Linked DNA regions of Homo sapiens: region 2 is linked to region 1. A link means that fine-mapping ties the variant in region 1 to the expression of a gene that starts in the linked region. Tissue or cell type: testis. Region 1 holds a variant in brackets; the other region holds the start of a gene. All regions are shown on one strand. Distances are from middle to middle.

Region 1 (8,174 bases):
ATCACCTAAAGTCAGGAATTCAAGACCAGCCTGGCCAACATGGTGAAACCCCATCTCTACTGAAAATACAAAAATGAGCCAGGCATGGTGGCAGGCACCTGTAATCCCAGCTACTCAGGAGGCTGAGGCAGGAGAATCACTTGAACCCGGGAGGTGGAGGTTGCAGTGAGCCGAGATCGCACCACTGCACTCCAGCCTGGGCGACAGAGCAAGACTCCATCTCAAAAGAAGAAAGAAAGAAAGGACTGTTTTTGCCTTCCCTCCAAGCATGTCCCTATAGGAGGGAATATAGGTTAGGTTTAAAAGCCTGACAGCAAAGGTTTGGTTTTCAGTCACGTGATCTTGGGCATGTGACCTCCCCTCCCTGAGCCTCAGTTTGTTCCTCCGTGAGGAAAAGGGGATAACACCCTGATATCTGATAGCATTGTTCATTGTTGTGAAGGTAAGATGAATGGATATAGGCAAGATGCTTAGTCCAGTCCTGATTAAACAGTAAGCACTCAAGACAGTCACTCATTATTAGTAGCAGTGATATCATCTGCGGGGGTGACTTCATCCCCCTGTCCCCAGACCAGTGCCCTGGGCCTCACCCTGGATGCCTCTGTCCCCATCCCCCAGCCTGTCAGCCTCGTGGGCTGTCCACTCGGCCTCCCAGACATCCCCCCGACCCCGCTTTCCTCATCCCCATGTCCCGCCCAAGTCCAAACCATCATTGCCTCTTGCCTGCGGAACGCCAACACCGCTACTGTCTACTAGGCTCTTACCCTCTGCCAGGCATCGATATTAACTATGTAACATTTAGTAATTTACATTAATGATCTCACTGAGTCCTTATTAGGTATCGCTATGATCCTCATACGGAGAAGGAAGGAGACTCCTCCATTCTTTTCATTCAGCAAACATTTCCTGAGCCTCTCTTCTGGGTCTGAGTCTGGTTCTGGGCTGGATAGGGCTGGGGACTTGGTGGAGACCAGGGCAGCCCCAGGCCCTGCCCTCATGGAGCTCCCAGTCCACGGGGGAGACAGACCCGTCCCAGATAATTCCTTAATACTCTCTCTTCTTTTTTTTTTTTTTTTTTTTTTGGAGACAGAGTCTTGCTCTGTTGCCCAGGCTGAAGTGCAGTGGCACAATCTTGGCTCACTGCAACCTCTGCCTCCAGAGTTCAAGCAATTCTCCTGCCTTAGCCTCCCAAGTAACTGGGACTACAGGTGCGCACCACCACATCTGGCTAATTTTTTGTATTTTTAGAAGAGAAGGTGTTTCACCGTGTTGCCTAGGCTGGTCTTGAACTCCTGACCTCAGGCGATCTGCCCCCCCCCCCCCCACTTAGCCTCCCAAAGTGCTGGGATTACAGATGTGAGCCACTACGGCTGGCCCTGGATAATTCCTTAATTCTGAGAATGCTAAGCCCTCACCCATCTGAGTGTCAACCCTGGAGTCAAGGCGAGGGATGGGGAGCAGGGCTGCTGGATGGTGGGAAAGGGGGTGCTGGAGGAGCCTCCCAGGGCTCACAGGTGTTCTTGGAAAGAGGGGTCATGATGGAGGAGGGTAGAGGGACCTTGGGGTCTCAAGAACGTCCCTCTGCCTCTAGATTGTCCTGCCGCCCCATCTGGAGCGCATTCGGGAGAAGCTGGCGGAGAACATCCACGAGCTCTGGGCGCTAACCCGCATCGAGCAGGGCTGGACCTACGGCCCGGTGAGGGGCTGCCTGCAGCCTGCGGGAGGCCGGCTAGACTTGCGGTGCCAGGAGGGAGAGCGGCTCACCGGCGGAGAGGAGGGAGGGACCACAGGGCACCAGGGGGTCCTTGGACTGAGGGTGGCAGAACTAGGGTTGGAGGTCAGGGGTCATAGTCTGGGCATGTGGGGAGTGGGAAGGAAAGGGGAGCACATGGAGTTGACCCTGGGTTTTCTCCAGGTTCGGGATGACAACAAGAGGCTGCACCCGTGTCTTGTGGACTTCCACAGCCTTCCAGAGCCTGAGAGGAACTACAACCTGCAGATGTCTGGGGAGACGCTCAAGTGAGGGCCCAGGGGAGCCGGGGGTTGGGGCTGGCTGCTGGTGCGGTGGGGGAGGGAGGCATGGAGAGACAGGGCAGGAGGTAGAGACTGAGAGAGAGAAGGATGGAGGGGACAGGGATTGTGAGACATAAACAAATGGGGAGTGGCCGGGCACGGTGGCTCACACCTGTAATCCTAGCACTTTGGGAGGCCGAGACGGGTGGATCACTTGAGGTCAGCAGTTCGAGACCAGTCTGGCCAACATGGCAAAACCCCGTCTCTACTAAAAATACAAAACTTAGCCGGGCGTGGTGGTGCACCTCTGTAATCCCAGCTCCTCAGGAGGCTGAGGCAGGAGAATCATTTGAACCTGGGAGGCAGAGGTTGCAGCGAGCCGAGATCACACTACTGCACTCCAGCCTGGGCGACAGAGCGAGACACCGTTTCAGAAAAAAAAAAAAAAAAAAAAAAAAAAAAAAAGAAGCAAACGGGGAGCAAGAAAGGGACAGAGGCAGAAAGAGAGAGAAAGAAAAGGTGGGGATGGAAAGAGAGAGAGATGCAGAAAGAGACAGGGAGACAGGAGAAAGTGGCAGACAGGAAAAGACAGACATAGTTAGTTATACAGACAAGGCGCAGGGAAAGACAGAAGTCATGAAGCCTGAGGCCAGGATCAAGAGAGACAGGGCCAGAGCGCCCCAGGCACTGAAGCAGCAGAGGTAGAGGGAGCTGGAGACCCTGAGGCCGTGGGAGGAGACGGGGCAGGGAGCTCTGAGGGGCGTGACCTGTCGCCTCCACTCCCCCACCCCCAGGACTCTGCTGGCTCTGGGCTGCCACGTGGGCATGGCGGATGAGAAGGCGGAGGACAACCTGAAGAAGACAAAACTCCCCAAGACGTGAGTGTGGGCAGCCAGGTCCCGTCTGGGGATGGACTGGGGGCTGGGGATGCTGTGCTAAGGGCTGGGGAGGTCGAGGGGTCTTGTGGGGAGGCTGAGGTTAGGGAGGAAGGAGACTTGGGTTAGGGTGAAGGTCATAGGGTCAGGGCTCTGGGGTCAGAGGTGAATGTCCAGGATTGAGGAGTTAGGAGTTTCAGAGAGAGAGAGAGGGAGGGTATGAGTCCAGGATCCAGGCTCAGGGTCTGCCTAGAGTCAGGGAAAATGAGAGCAGAGGTCACATGTCCACGTAAGGGGTAAGGGGCCAATGGTAAGAGGTGAGAATCTGGAGGTCGTTGGAGTCGTCTAAGTAAGGGATCCTGAAATTATAGGTGAGCAGTTACACGTCCTGAGTTCAGAGGTCAAGGACTCCAGACCCAGGAGTTTGGGGTGGATGAGGACTGGGATCAGAGTAAGAAACCTCAGAGTGGGCTGGGTGAGGTGGCTCACACCTGTAATCCCAGCACTTTGGGAGGTTGAGGCAGGAAGATCACTTGAGCCCAGTTCAAGACCAGCCTGGGCAACATGGTGAGACCCCTCTACAAAAAATTTAAAAATTAGCAGGACATGGTGGTGGGACATGCCTGTAGTTCCAGCAACTTGGGAGGTTGAGATGGGAGAATTGCTTGAACCCAGGAGTTTGAGGCTGCAGTGAGCCATGATTGCACCACCGCACTCCAGCCTGGGTGACAGAACGAGAAAACAACCTCAAAAAAACAAAAAGAGCCGGGCTCAGTCGCTCACGCCTGTAATCCGAGCACTTTGGGAGGCCGAGGCGGGCGGATCACCTGAGGTCGGGAATTCGAGACCAGCCTGACCAACACGGTGAAACCCACCCTCTACCAAAAATACAAAATTAGCCGGGTGTGGTGGCACATGCCTGTAATCCCTGCTACTCCGGAGGCTGAGGCAGGAGAATCACTTGAACCCAGGAGGTGGAGGTTGCAGTGAGCCGAGATCGTGCCATTGCACTCCAGCCTGGGCAACAAGAGTGAAACTCCGTATCAAAAAAAAAACAAAGAGAGAGAAAAACCTCAAAGTTAGTGGTGAGAGGTCTGAGAGAGTTCCGGGGTTAGAGATAGGGGTCCCAAAGTCAAGACAAAGGGGGCTAGAGGTCATTGATGTCAAAGCCCTTGCTAGGGTCCCAGGATCCTAGGGTCAGAAGCCAGGGATCTCAAAACTTATTCTAAAATTTCATAGAACTGCAACATTATATCAAAGGTCAGAAACGCCGAAGCTGGGACAAGGGTCAGCAGTCAGGGATCCCATATAGTGCAGAGCCCGGAAGTGGAGGTGAGGGCCTTGTCCCATGGAGCCCTACCATGCCCGCAGGTATATGATGAGCAATGGGTACAAGCCGGCTCCGCTGGACCTGAGCCACGTGCGGCTGACGCCGGCGCAGACGACACTGGTGGACCGTCTGGCAGAAAATGGGCACAA[C/T]GTGTGGGCCCGAGACCGCGTGGGCCAGGGCTGGAGCTACAGCGCAGTGCAGGACATCCCAGCGCGCCGAAACCCTCGGCTGGTGCCCTACCGCCTGCTGGATGAAGCCACCAAGCGCAGCAACCGGGACAGCCTCTGCCAGGCCGTGCGCACCCTCCTGGGCTACGGCTACAACATCGAGCCTCCTGACCAGGAGCCCAGTGAGTGCTCACCCCTGGCCCTGGCCCTGACTCCTACCCCAACTCTGACCCCAGCCCCGATCCCTGATCTCTGACCTGACTCAGCCCCCAAATGGGCTATATCTTTTTTTTTTTTTTTTTTTTTGAGACGGAGTCTCGCTGTCCCCAGGCTGGAGTGCAATGGCGCGATCTCTGCTCACTGCAAGCTCCACCTCCTGGGTTCACACCATTCTCCTGCCTCAGCCTTCCGAGTAGCTGGGATTACCGGCGGGTGCCACCACGCCTGGCTAATTTTTTGTATTTTTAGTAGAGACAGGATTTCACCGTTTTAGCCAGGATGGTCTCGATCTCCTGACCTCGTGATCCGCCTGCCTCGGACTCCCAAAGTGCTGGGATTACAGGCGTGAGCCACTGCACCTGGCCCAAATGGGCTATATCTATCACATCGAGCAGACTGACCAGGAGGTCAGAAAGGACTGACCCCTCCCCGAAACTCTGAGCCTTACCCCAGTTCCAACTCGGAACCTGATGGAACCACTTCCCTTTACCTGACGCCAGCCCTGCCTGGGCTATGACTGCAAACCAGAGCCGTCAGCCTAGGAACCCAATGAGTGCCAACCCCACCTTTGACTCTGATTCCTGACCTCTAGCTTTGATCCCTAATCACTAATCTCTGAACTGTAGCTACCACATGAAGGCACCCAACCAAGGGCTTAGAGAGCCTGGTCACCCCTACCCCTAACCTGACTCCTGACCTATCACTGGCTTCCAATCCCAGCCTTGACCCCAAACCCTGGCCATGGTCCCCAACCTTCAGTTTCTCAACTCTTGGCCCCAACCTGAATTTCCATCCCTTCCATAATCCTGGCTCTGACCCTCCAATCCTGGTCTCAGCCCTTCATTCTAATCAACCCTGATCTTGACCCTTAACCCCAGACCATAACTCTGACCAGTTCACTGAGCTGGCTTTTTCCTTCTGTGTCTCTGCCAGTATCCCTGTTTTCTGAGAATTCTGACTGCTACAGAGATGGGGGTCTCTCTCAACAGGTCCCTGCCTCTCTCTGACTTTTCTGAGGTTCCCCAATTCTCCTCTAACTCCAAGAAATTGACCCTCTTCCAACAGTTCCCCAAAGCCCTTACTGTCCCCCAAAGCCTGTCTTCTACCAACTTCTCGATGTCTTGGGATCCACATCTTCCCTAGCCTCTCTGACTCTGCCTGGCCTCATTTATAGGTCAGGTGGAGAACCAGTCTCGTTGTGACCGGGTGCGCATCTTCCGGGCAGAGAAATCCTATACAGTGCAGAGCGGCCGCTGGTACTTCGAGTTTGAAGCAGTCACCACAGGCGAGATGCGCGTGGGCTGGGCGAGGCCCGAGCTGAGGCCTGATGTAGAGCTGGGAGCTGACGAGCTGGCCTATGTCTTCAATGGGCACCGCGTGGGTACCTCCCTGGGCACCATTCTGCCAGGTCCTGTGGTCTCTCCCACAGCTTGTCTACTCTGGCCCTGCCTCTGTCTGTGCCTCACTCTGTCCCCACTTCATGCATCTACTGTACCACTCATCCACCCATCTATCCATCCATTCAACCAATGATTCATCCATCCATCCATCCATCGATCTATCAGACATCCATCTATCCAACCAACAATTCATCCATCCATCCATCCATCCATCATCCATCCATCCATCCATCCATCCATCCATCCATCCATCCATCCAACCATCCATCCAGCTAACCAACCATCCATTCATCCAGCCAACATAGGGAGACCCCATCTCTACAAAAAATAAAAAAATTAGCTAGGCAAGGTAGCATGCACATATAGTCCCATCATCCATCCATCCATCCATCCATCCATCCATCATCTATCCATCTGACCAGCCAACCATGCATCCATCCATGCATTCAACCATCCATCCATCATCCATTCATCCCTCATCCATCCAACCAACCATCCATCCATCCATTCTTCCAGCCAACTGTCCATCCATCCATCCAATAACCATCTGCCCATCCAACAACCATTTATACAACCATCCTTCCCTTCTTCCCTCTATCTGTCATCCATTTATTTATGCTTGCCCCTACTTACACTTTGTTCTTTCTCTGTATCAACCCAGGTAAACTCTCAACTTTCCAATCATTCTTCTGTCCAGCCATGTACCCAATTTCTCATCCATCTATCTGTCTCATTAGCCACTCATCTATTTTGTGCATGTATATAAGCATATATGGATCTGTATGGGGACACTGATAGGTTCATTTTTCCTTTCCATCCCTCTACTTACTGCTGCTTCCAGCCCCCCACTACCACTTTGGTGGTCTGCATAATGCTAGCCATGGCAACAGCAGAGAACCCAGGCAGAAGGGATGAGACACAGAGATTAGTGGGGAGAAAAATTCCTGTGATCATGGATGCAAATGTGAGGAAAGATGGAGACACTGTGGGGTGACCCCTCTTCCATACCACCTGCCCTGAACCTGACACTTCGAATGTCTGTCTTCATATATCTCTCCCTCCCTGCTTCCTTATCTCTCCATTTCTCTGTGTGTCTCCCCACACCATGTCTTCTCTGGCTGTCCTCACAGGGCCAGCGCTGGCACTTGGGCAGTGAACCATTTGGGCGCCCCTGGCAGCCGGGCGATGTCGTTGGCTGTATGATCGACCTCACAGAGAACACCATTATCTTCACCCTCAATGGCGAGGTCCTCATGTCTGACTCAGGCTCCGAAACAGCCTTCCGGGAGATTGAGATTGGGGACGGTGAGGGCTGAGACCCCTTCACATGCCCTTTCTTGTTTTCCTCTGTCTCTCCCAACCCTGCACTGCCCTTCTGCCTCCAACTCTCCCATCCCTACCTCCTCCCCTCGGCTCCCTCTGCCCTGCCCACCTGCCCTCACCCCTGCCCATCCATCCCCTCCCACCAGGCTTCCTGCCCGTCTGCAGCTTGGGACCTGGCCAGGTGGGTCATCTGAACCTGGGCCAGGACGTGAGCTCTCTGAGGTTCTTTGCCATCTGTGGCCTCCAGGAAGGCTTCGAGCCATTTGCCATCAACATGCAGCGCCCAGTCACCACCTGGTTCAGCAAAGGCCTGCCCCAGTTTGAGCCAGTGCCCCTTGAACACCCTCACTATGAGGTAAGGACTGAGCCCCTCAATGCCTTCTCATCTGCCTCCAAAGCTCCTTCCTTCCACAGTGCTCTTCTTTGAGTTTCTCTTTTCCCTCCATGTTAGGACACAAACCACATGGAAGCAAGTGTCAGAGTGATGGGCTCACGGGCTGTATGACTCCGGGTGTAACTTTGGCAAACCACAGCTTCCTGAGGTCCAGGTGCCTCACCTATAAAATAAGGGAAACCCTGCCTGGGCAACAAGCAAAACTCCATCTCTAAAAATAAAAAAAAATTAAGTCTAGGCATGGTAGCTCATGCCTGTTATCCCAGCACTTAGGGAGGCTGAGGCAGGAGGATCCCTTGAGCCCAGGAGTTCAAGACCAGCCTTGGCAACATAGGGAGACCCCGTCTCTACAAAAAATAAAAAAAAAAATTAGCAAGGTGTGTAGTATGCACATATAGCCCTAGCTACTCAGGAGGTTGAGACTGGAGGATTGCTTGATTCCAAGAGGTCAAG
Region 2 (8,174 bases), 31 kb before region 1:
CAGCCTGGGAGACAGAATGGGACTCCATCTAAAAAAAAAAAAAAAAAAAAAGAATATAAAAGGAACAGCTGCAAATCAGCAAGCGAAAAAGACAGCAACCATAATAGAAAAATGGCCGGGCTCAGTGGCTCCTGCGCCTATAATGTAAGATTACATGCTTGTAATCTCAGCACTTTGGGAGACCGAGGTGGGTAGACTACCTGAGGTCAAGAGTTCAAGACCACCCTGGCCAACATGGCGAAACCCCGTCTCTACTCAAAATACAAAAATTAGGCTGGGCACAGTGGCTCACGCCTGCAATCCTAGCACTTTGGGAGGCCAAGGCAGGCGGATTGGCTGAGCTCAGGAGTTCGAGACCAGCCTGGGCAACACAGTGAAACCCGATCTCTACTAAAATACAAAAGAAATTAGCCAGGTGTGGCAGTATGCGCCTGTAGTCCTGGGGGTGCTGAGGCAGGAGAATTGCTTGAACCCAGGAGGCGGAGGTTGCAGTGAGCCGAGATGGTGCCACTGAACTCCAGCCTGGGCGACAGAGCAAGACTCTGTCTCAAAAAAAAAAAACAAAAAAAAGTGAGCAGGGATCACAATGAGCAGATAACAAAGAAACCCAAAACTCTGATAGGCACTTGAGAAGATGCTAGAAATTGTTGGTAACTCATCAGGGAAGTGGAAATTAAAATGACAGCGAGTCCAGGCGCGGTGGCTCTTGCCTGTAATCCTAACACTTTGGGAAGCTGAGGTAGGAGGATCACTTGAGACCAGCAGTTCAATACCAGCCTGGGCAATATAGTAAGACCCCACCTCTATAAAAAATTTAAAAGTTAGTTGGGCGTGGTGGCACAAGCCTGTTGTCCCAGCTGCTCGGGAGGTTGAGGTGGGAGGATCCCTTGAGCCCAGGAGTTCCGGGCAGCAGTGAACCATAATTGCGCCACTGCACCCCAGCCTGGGCAACAAAGTGAGATCTCATCTCTAAAAATAAAATAGAGAAAATAAATTAAAAAACAGTGAGTCACCCTATATAAATCTGGCAAAAATTAGTTAAGTTGGAAATGCCACATGAGGGTTGGGGATATGGGGACCCGGGGACCCTCATGCACTGGTAGTGAGTAGCCATTCCGAGGGCTACCCAGCACTACTTACACAAATGGTGCGCATGGATATGTCACCCAGCAATTAGCTTCTGGGTACGCACAATAAAACATTCTCCCTCAGCTTCCTGGGGGACCAATACACAGATGTTCCCTCCAGCATTATTTCGGGAGAGCTGGAGGCAGCCTGGGTGTCCGCTCCCAGTAGGGGTAGGTGGAAAAACAGAAGGGATCAGTCACCAGAGAATCCTGCAAAGCCACCACTGTCACACACCAGGTGTCCACAGAGCAACAAGGGTAGGTCTTAAAACACATAATGATGACTGACAAAAATAAGAAACACTATTAATATCTTATGATATAATGCTCAATGACACAGAATCATTTTACATTTACATAAAGTTTTAGGGAAAAACAATATTTAATATACAACTATGCGTTGGATAATGTATAACAGATACAACATAGAATTGTATTGTACTGTATAATTATATTAGCCTAAATATATAATTATATAATTATACATTATATAATGCCAAATTATATAATTCCATAATATGACACAAACTTTTGTGCTATTTATTGCAGTTGTGTTAACATCAGTATTTAATTATGGAACACCTAGAAACCTGCTATACCTTGAAGAACGGTTTCTATGTAATTTTGTTTAACTATGGGATATTGTTTTATATAACTTACTGTATACCACTACATGTTAATAAAAAAAATTTTTTTTTTTTTTTTTGAGGTGGAGCCTTGCTCTGTCACCTGGGCTGGAGTGTAGTGGTACAATCTCGGCTCACTACAACCTCTGCCTCCTGGGCTTAAATGATTCTTGTTCCTCAGCCTCCCAAGTAGCTGGGATTAGAGTCGTGTGACACCATGCCCAGCTAATTTCTGTGTTTTTAGTAGAGTCAGAGTTTCACCATGTTGACCAAGCTGGTCTCAAATTCCTGGCTTCAAGTGATCTGTCTGCCTTGGCCTCCCAACGTGCTGGGATTACAGGCATGAGCCACTGTGTCTGGCCTAGTAATAATTTTAATAGGGCTGGACGTGGTGGTTTACACCTGTAATCCCAGCACTTTGGGAGGCTGAGGTGGGCGAATCATGAGGTCAGGAGTTCGAGACCAGCCTGGCCAACATGGTGAAACCCCGTCTCTACCAAAAATACAAAAATTAGCCGGGTGTGTTGGCAGGTGCCTGTAATCCCAGCTACTCAGGAGGCTGAGGAGGAGAATCGTTTGAACCTGGGAGGTGGAGGTTGCAGTGAGTCAAGATCTTGCCACTGCACTCCAGTCTGGGCAACAAGAGCAAGAGTCCGTCTCAAAATAAATAAATAAATAAATAAATAATAATAATAGCAACACTTACATTACATTAACCAGGCACTGGCACTGTTTTAAGTTTTATCTCATTTAATTAATTATCTCATTTAACTCTCCCAACAACCACGTGAGGTCGGTACTATTAATATTCCCCTTACTGGATGGGGAAACCGAGGCACAGAGAAGCTAAGTGGCTTATCCATGTAACTCAAGGAAGTGGCAAGGCTGGGTGGGATTCAGATCCAGATTATCTGGCTTGGAGTCGGAGTCCTTGTTCTTTTTTTTTTTTTTTTCAGACGAAGTCTCGCCCAGGCTGGAGTGCAGTGGCTCAATCTCGGCTCACTGCAGCTTCTGCCTCCCGAATTCAAGGAGTTCAAGCAATTCTCCTGCCTCAGTTTCCCAAGTGGCTGGGATTACAAGCATGTGTCACCACGCCTGGCTAATTTTTGTACTTTTAGTAGAGACGGGGGTTTCACCATGTTGGCCAGGCTGGCCTCGAACTCCTGACCTCAAGTGATCCACCCACCTCGGCGTCCCAAAGTGCTGAGATTACAGGGGTGAGCCACCACTCCCGGCCGGAGTCCTTGTTCTTAATCACTATGTTTGGTGCTTTTTAAAGTCAGGAGATCTGGTGCACATCCCTGCTCTGCTGCGTGATATCTTGCAAGAACTTCCCCACTCAGAGCCTCAGTCTGCCCTCTGTGAAATGGGAGAATGATGGCACGTTACTTACCGTGGTGGGGAGAAAGCGCAGGTACCTCCTAGATACTCTCTCTCCCACCCCACCTCCGGCGGCCAACGGCCAAGCAAACCTCCAGCCAAGATTTGGGGTATGTGGGCAGGGCTCCGGCGAAGGGGAGTGGCCGGGGAGTCCTGGTCCAATGGGGCCCGGGGGCGGGGACTTCCTCCCATCTCTGTCCAGCATGCGTGTACTCCTCGCAGTTCCATCTACCTCGCGGGTGCCTCTGGTGTCTCCAGAGGTCTCCGACCCCAGCCCGCCCCCAGCCCTCCCGCCCAGCCCGCAGCCCCCTCCCTCTGTTCCCCGACCTCAGACCCTGGGCTTCCGACCTCGACATCATGGGTGACGCAGAAGGCGAAGACGAGGTCCAGTTCCTGCGGACGGTGCGTATCTCTGGGTTAGGGGCCTGTGGGGCTATCTCTTGGGGCTCTCTGAGGGTCTCTCTGTCTCTGAATGTCCCTGTCCGGCTTGCTGGTGGTCTCTGAGACTCGAGGTCTCTTCCTATGTCACTTTGAGTGACTGTCACTCTGTCTTTTAGTCTCCTTCACCTTTCTCACTACAGAGAATTAGTAGGATTGGGGACTCCAGAATGGGAAAGGGATCTTCGGTTGCCCTCTCTTCTGACTTTAGCGATTTGTCCCCCACAAGAAGGACCCCCGAGGGAGCACACCCTCACACCATCTTGGAAGCAGGCACTTGGGGAAGGTGGTTCTAATTCCTGGGCTTGATTTAGCCATCCCCCCACCCCCACCTTAGCCCTAATTCTCTTTTTGCTCCAGACTCTGACCTATTTAAATTCTTGAGAAGGGAGCTGGAGTGAGCTGGAGGACACAGCTGCTTCCAACTCCTAGCCCTTGAGGGTCTTGTGGGGGAGGGATCTCTTGGGTTCTGGGTCTTTCTTTCCTTCTTCGTTTTGGGCAGGAGGGCTGCTCCCAATGGCTGCTAATGGTCTTGCAGGGTCTCTGGGTGGTGTCTCTCCCCATCTGTCTCTTTGGGTGTCTCCATGTCTCTGTCTCTTCCTCCATCTCAGTCTCCCTGTCTCTGTTTCTTAGCTTAAGGCCCTCTGATTTTCGCTGTCTCTCTAGCTGGGTTACTCCCTGCATCTGAGCCCCAGCTGGGGGCAGGGATGGGAATTGGAACAACAGGTGTCCCTCCCAGAATAGCCGGCTTTTCTGGGGCCTGGGCAGGGGATGGGGAGGGGATGAGAGGGAGGAGGGGCTGCCATCTCCTTGTCCTTCCCATCTTCCCCTCCCAGTGGCTCCGCAGGGTGTGGGGTCGTAAATATGGGAGGGGACGTCCTCTCCTCTGGGCTAGGTCTGCTGACCAGACGCTAGCCCCGCCCCTCCCCCCGGGGCCCTGGAGCCACACAGGAAATGCTGACACAGCATTCCTGCCCCAGAATAGGACCCTGGCGAGCCGGGTCCGGTTTCCTGGGAGAGAGGAACAAACAGCTGGGGCTGGTAGTGAAGGATGGGGACAGCTGGGAAGGGGCCTAGCTTCAGCCGAGACTCTCTCCCCAGCCCCAGCCCCTCAGCAGACACCATGGGTCGGGCCCTCCCCAGCCCTAATAAGACCATGGCCATGGCCACTGGCTCTTGAGCTGTCGCTCTAAACCAGGCCCTGTGCCCTGGGCCTCTGCCTCCTGAGACATCTAATTATATCCTTGCTGCCCTGTCTTCTGAGGTAGGGTCCTATCTTTATCTCCCTGACAGATTTGAGGGAAACCAAGGCCCGAATGGTAGAATCACTCACCCAAGGTCAAGGCCAGGAAGTGGCATCTCTGGATGCCCCTGGTGCCCAGCCCCATTGCCTTCACCAGAGAAAATCTGGGCCCAGACTTGCCAAAGTAGTCAGCGTTAGGGTTCTGGAGGCTTGGCCCTGGAATCTCTCCACCCCAGACTGGGTCAGTTTTTCTGATTGTTACTGAGGTCGTGGTGGATTTCTCAAAACTTTCTGGAGGCTGGGCTCAGTGGCTCATGCCTGTAATCTCAGCACTTTGGGAGGCCAAGGTGAGCGGATCACTTGAGGTCAGGAGTTTGAGACCAGCCTGGCCAACATGGTGAAACCCCGTCTCTACTAAAAATACAAAAAAATATTAGCCAGGCGTGGTGGTGCATGCCTGTAATCTTAGCTACTCGGGAGGCTGAAGTGGGAGGATTGCTTGAACCTGGGAGGCAGAGGTTGCAGTGAGCCGAGATTGCGCCACTGCACACTCCAGCCTGGGCGACAGGGCGAGACTCCATCTCAGAACAAAAAACCTTCTGGACCACATCCCGCCCATAAGAAACATTCTGTCTTACAACTCAGTACATGCACACATGCATAGACATGACTAAAAACCAACTTTATTGAGGTATAATTGACCTGCAATAAATTTTACCCAGTTTATGTGTTCAATGAGTTGTTTTGTTTTTGTTTATTTATTTATTTTTTTGAGATGGAGTTTCACTCTTGTTGCCCAGACTGGAGTGCAATGGCGTGATCGCAGCTCACTGCAACCTCTGCCTCCTGGGTTCAAGCGATTCTTCTGCCTCAGCCTCCTGAGTAGCTGGGATTACAGGCGCGTGCCACCAAGCCGAGCTAATTTTTTGTATTTTTAGTAGAGATGGGGTTTCACCATGTTGGCCAGGCTGGTCTTGAACTCCTGACCTCAGATGATCCACCCATCTTGGCCTCCCAAGGTGCTGGGATTACAGGTGTGAGCCACCACGCCCGGCCTTTTTTTTTCTTTTTGAGACAGAGTCTCAATCTGTTGCCCAGGCTGGAGTACAGCAGTTTGGTGGTTGGTTCAACGCAACCTCCACTTCCCAGGCTCCAGTGATCCTCCCACCTCAGCCTCCTGAGTAGCTGGGACTACACGTGCATAGCACCATGCTTGGCTAATTTGTAAAATTTTTTGTAGAGGTGAGGTCTCACTATATTGCCCAGGCTGGTGTCAAACTCCTGGGCTCAAGAAATCCTCCGGCCTTGGCCTCCCAAAGTTTTGGGATTACAGGCATAAGCCACCATGCCCGGCCTTTCTTCTTTCACTCAGCATAATATTTTTGACATTCATCCATGTAGCATGTATTGAGTTTGTTGCTTTTTGTTGCCGAATATTATTCCATTGTGCGACTATACTGTGGTGTGTTTATCAGTTCACCTGCTGATGGACATTTGAGTCGTCTCCAATTTTTACTATTATAGACAACACAGGGCCTGTGACCATTCACTTGTACCTATTTTTAACTGAAACAAGTCTCATAAAATGTAGATGGCCCCTGAAGCATGATGGGCACGCTGTGATTTTCTATTCTTGCTCCATTTTGCTTCGTTTGGTTAAGTATGATGGCCACAGCCCCCCCAAACTGATTTCACTTCCCTTTGGTGGGTGGTGACCTCTACCCTTACCCAGGCTGGGGTTTCTCAAACCCTGGCCCAAGTTAGAAGCTCCTGGGGTCTGGTAAACAGTACGTATTCCCTGCTGACCCCAAATCAGGCTCTTGATGGTGGTAGGGGACTGGGCCAGCAGGGAAGCTATATTTTTAACCAGAACCCTCCGCTTCCTTCATTTTTTTTTTCTTTTTCTTTTTTTTTTAAGATGGAGTCTTCCTTTGTAGCCCAGGCTGGAGTGCAATGGCACAATCTCGGCTCACTGCAACCTCCGCCTCCTGGGTTCAAGCGATTCTCCTGTCTCAGCCTCCCGAGTAGCTGGGATTACAGGCATGCACCACTACGCCCGGCTAATTTTTGTACTTTTAATAGAGATGGGGTTTCACCATGTTGGCCAGGCTGGTCTCGAACTCCTGACCTCAAGTGATGCGCCCACCTTGGCCTCCCAAAGTGCTGGGATTACAGGAATGAGCCACCTCGCCCAGCCTGCCTTCATTCTAATTCAGGAAAAGTTTGAGAATCAATGTGGTAATGATTGGGCTCTCTGTCGCTGCTTTGCACTCTGGCTTTGCCATTTGCCTGCTTCCTAATTTGGGGCAAGTGATTTTTATTTTTCTCTCTGAGCCTCAGTGTTCTCATCTGGAAAATGGGGACAAGATTATATACAATAGCCAGACCCCATGGCTCACACCTGTAATCCCTTCGCTTTGGGAGGCTGAAGCAGGACGATTGCTTGAGGCCGGGAGTTCAAAAACAGCCTGGGCAACATAGGGAGACCTTGTCTTTACAAAAAATGTTAAACTTTAGCTGGGCGTGGCAGTGTGCACCTGTAGTACCAGCTACTTGGGAGGCTGAGGTGGGAAGATCACTTGAAACCAGGAGTCGGAAGCTGCAGTGAGCTGTGATCTCGCCACTGCACTCCAGTCTGGGCAACAGAGCAAGACCCTGTGTCTACAAAAATATATATATCTTAAATTAGCTGGGTGTGGTGGCATGAGCCTGCAGTCATAGCTTCTCAGGAGGCTGAATGGAGAGGATCACTCAGCCTAGGAGTCCAAGGCTGCAGTGAGCTATGATCGTACCACTGCACTCCACCCCAGGAGACAGAGTGAGACCCAGTCTCTTAAAAAAAAAAAAAAAGTTATTTTTCAAGGGGCCCATGCAAGTATCTCTCTGACCTCATCTCCTCCCTGTTTGCCCCTCCTCCTTGCGGCCACCATCCTGCTCCATCTCCTGTGCTGTCCCTCAACACCCCAGCACCCAGACTCCCTCCTCTTACCCCAGAGATGAGCAGGCCTGATTCCTTCTTGTTATTTGGACAAGGCTCAACTCAAATGTCACCTCCTTGGAGAGGCTGTCACTTCACTCCCTCACTGATCTCATCCCCATCCTAAAAGCCACTCTCTTACATCAGCCTGGGTTATTTTTTCTATAACACCTATCACTGACATTAACATTACATATTAATTCACCTGTTTATTCCCTGTCTCCACCATGAGGATTTAAGCTCCCTGAGGGCCGTGATTTTTTTTTTTTCCTTTTGAGACATGGTCTCAATCTGTCTCAGGGGCCCCAGGGAGGTGGGGCTTGATTATGACTCACTGCAGCCTCGATTTCCCAGGCTTGGCAGTCCTCCCACCTCAGCCTCCC

The links. PIP is the estimated chance that this variant, and not a neighbour inherited with it, causes the effect.
Region 2: it holds the start of RYR1, and the variant in region 1 is fine-mapped to the expression of RYR1 in testis (GTEx, PIP above 0.99).

What each region holds. Positions count from the first base shown.
Region 1 is chr19:38,461,832-38,470,005 of GRCh38, forward strand. RYR1 (ryanodine receptor 1) reads left to right here. Exons shown (of 106, transcript NM_000540.3): 21 at 1,592-1,696; 22 at 1,916-2,019; 23 at 2,808-2,891; 24 at 4,260-4,567; 25 at 5,779-5,981; 26 at 7,135-7,309; 27 at 7,474-7,682. Among named protein-coding and RNA genes, the nearest start is that of RYR1, 32 kb to the left of the region's middle. RefSeq lists enhancers at 1,262-1,763, 2,274-2,870. The variant C/T (reference allele first, on the strand shown) is at 4,368.
Region 2 is chr19:38,430,340-38,438,513 of GRCh38, forward strand. It overlaps RYR1 (ryanodine receptor 1), which reads left to right and starts at 3,352. Exons shown (of 106, transcript NM_000540.3): 1 at 3,352-3,535. The coding sequence starts at 3,491. RefSeq lists a silencer at 3,235-3,374 and an enhancer at 4,106-4,681.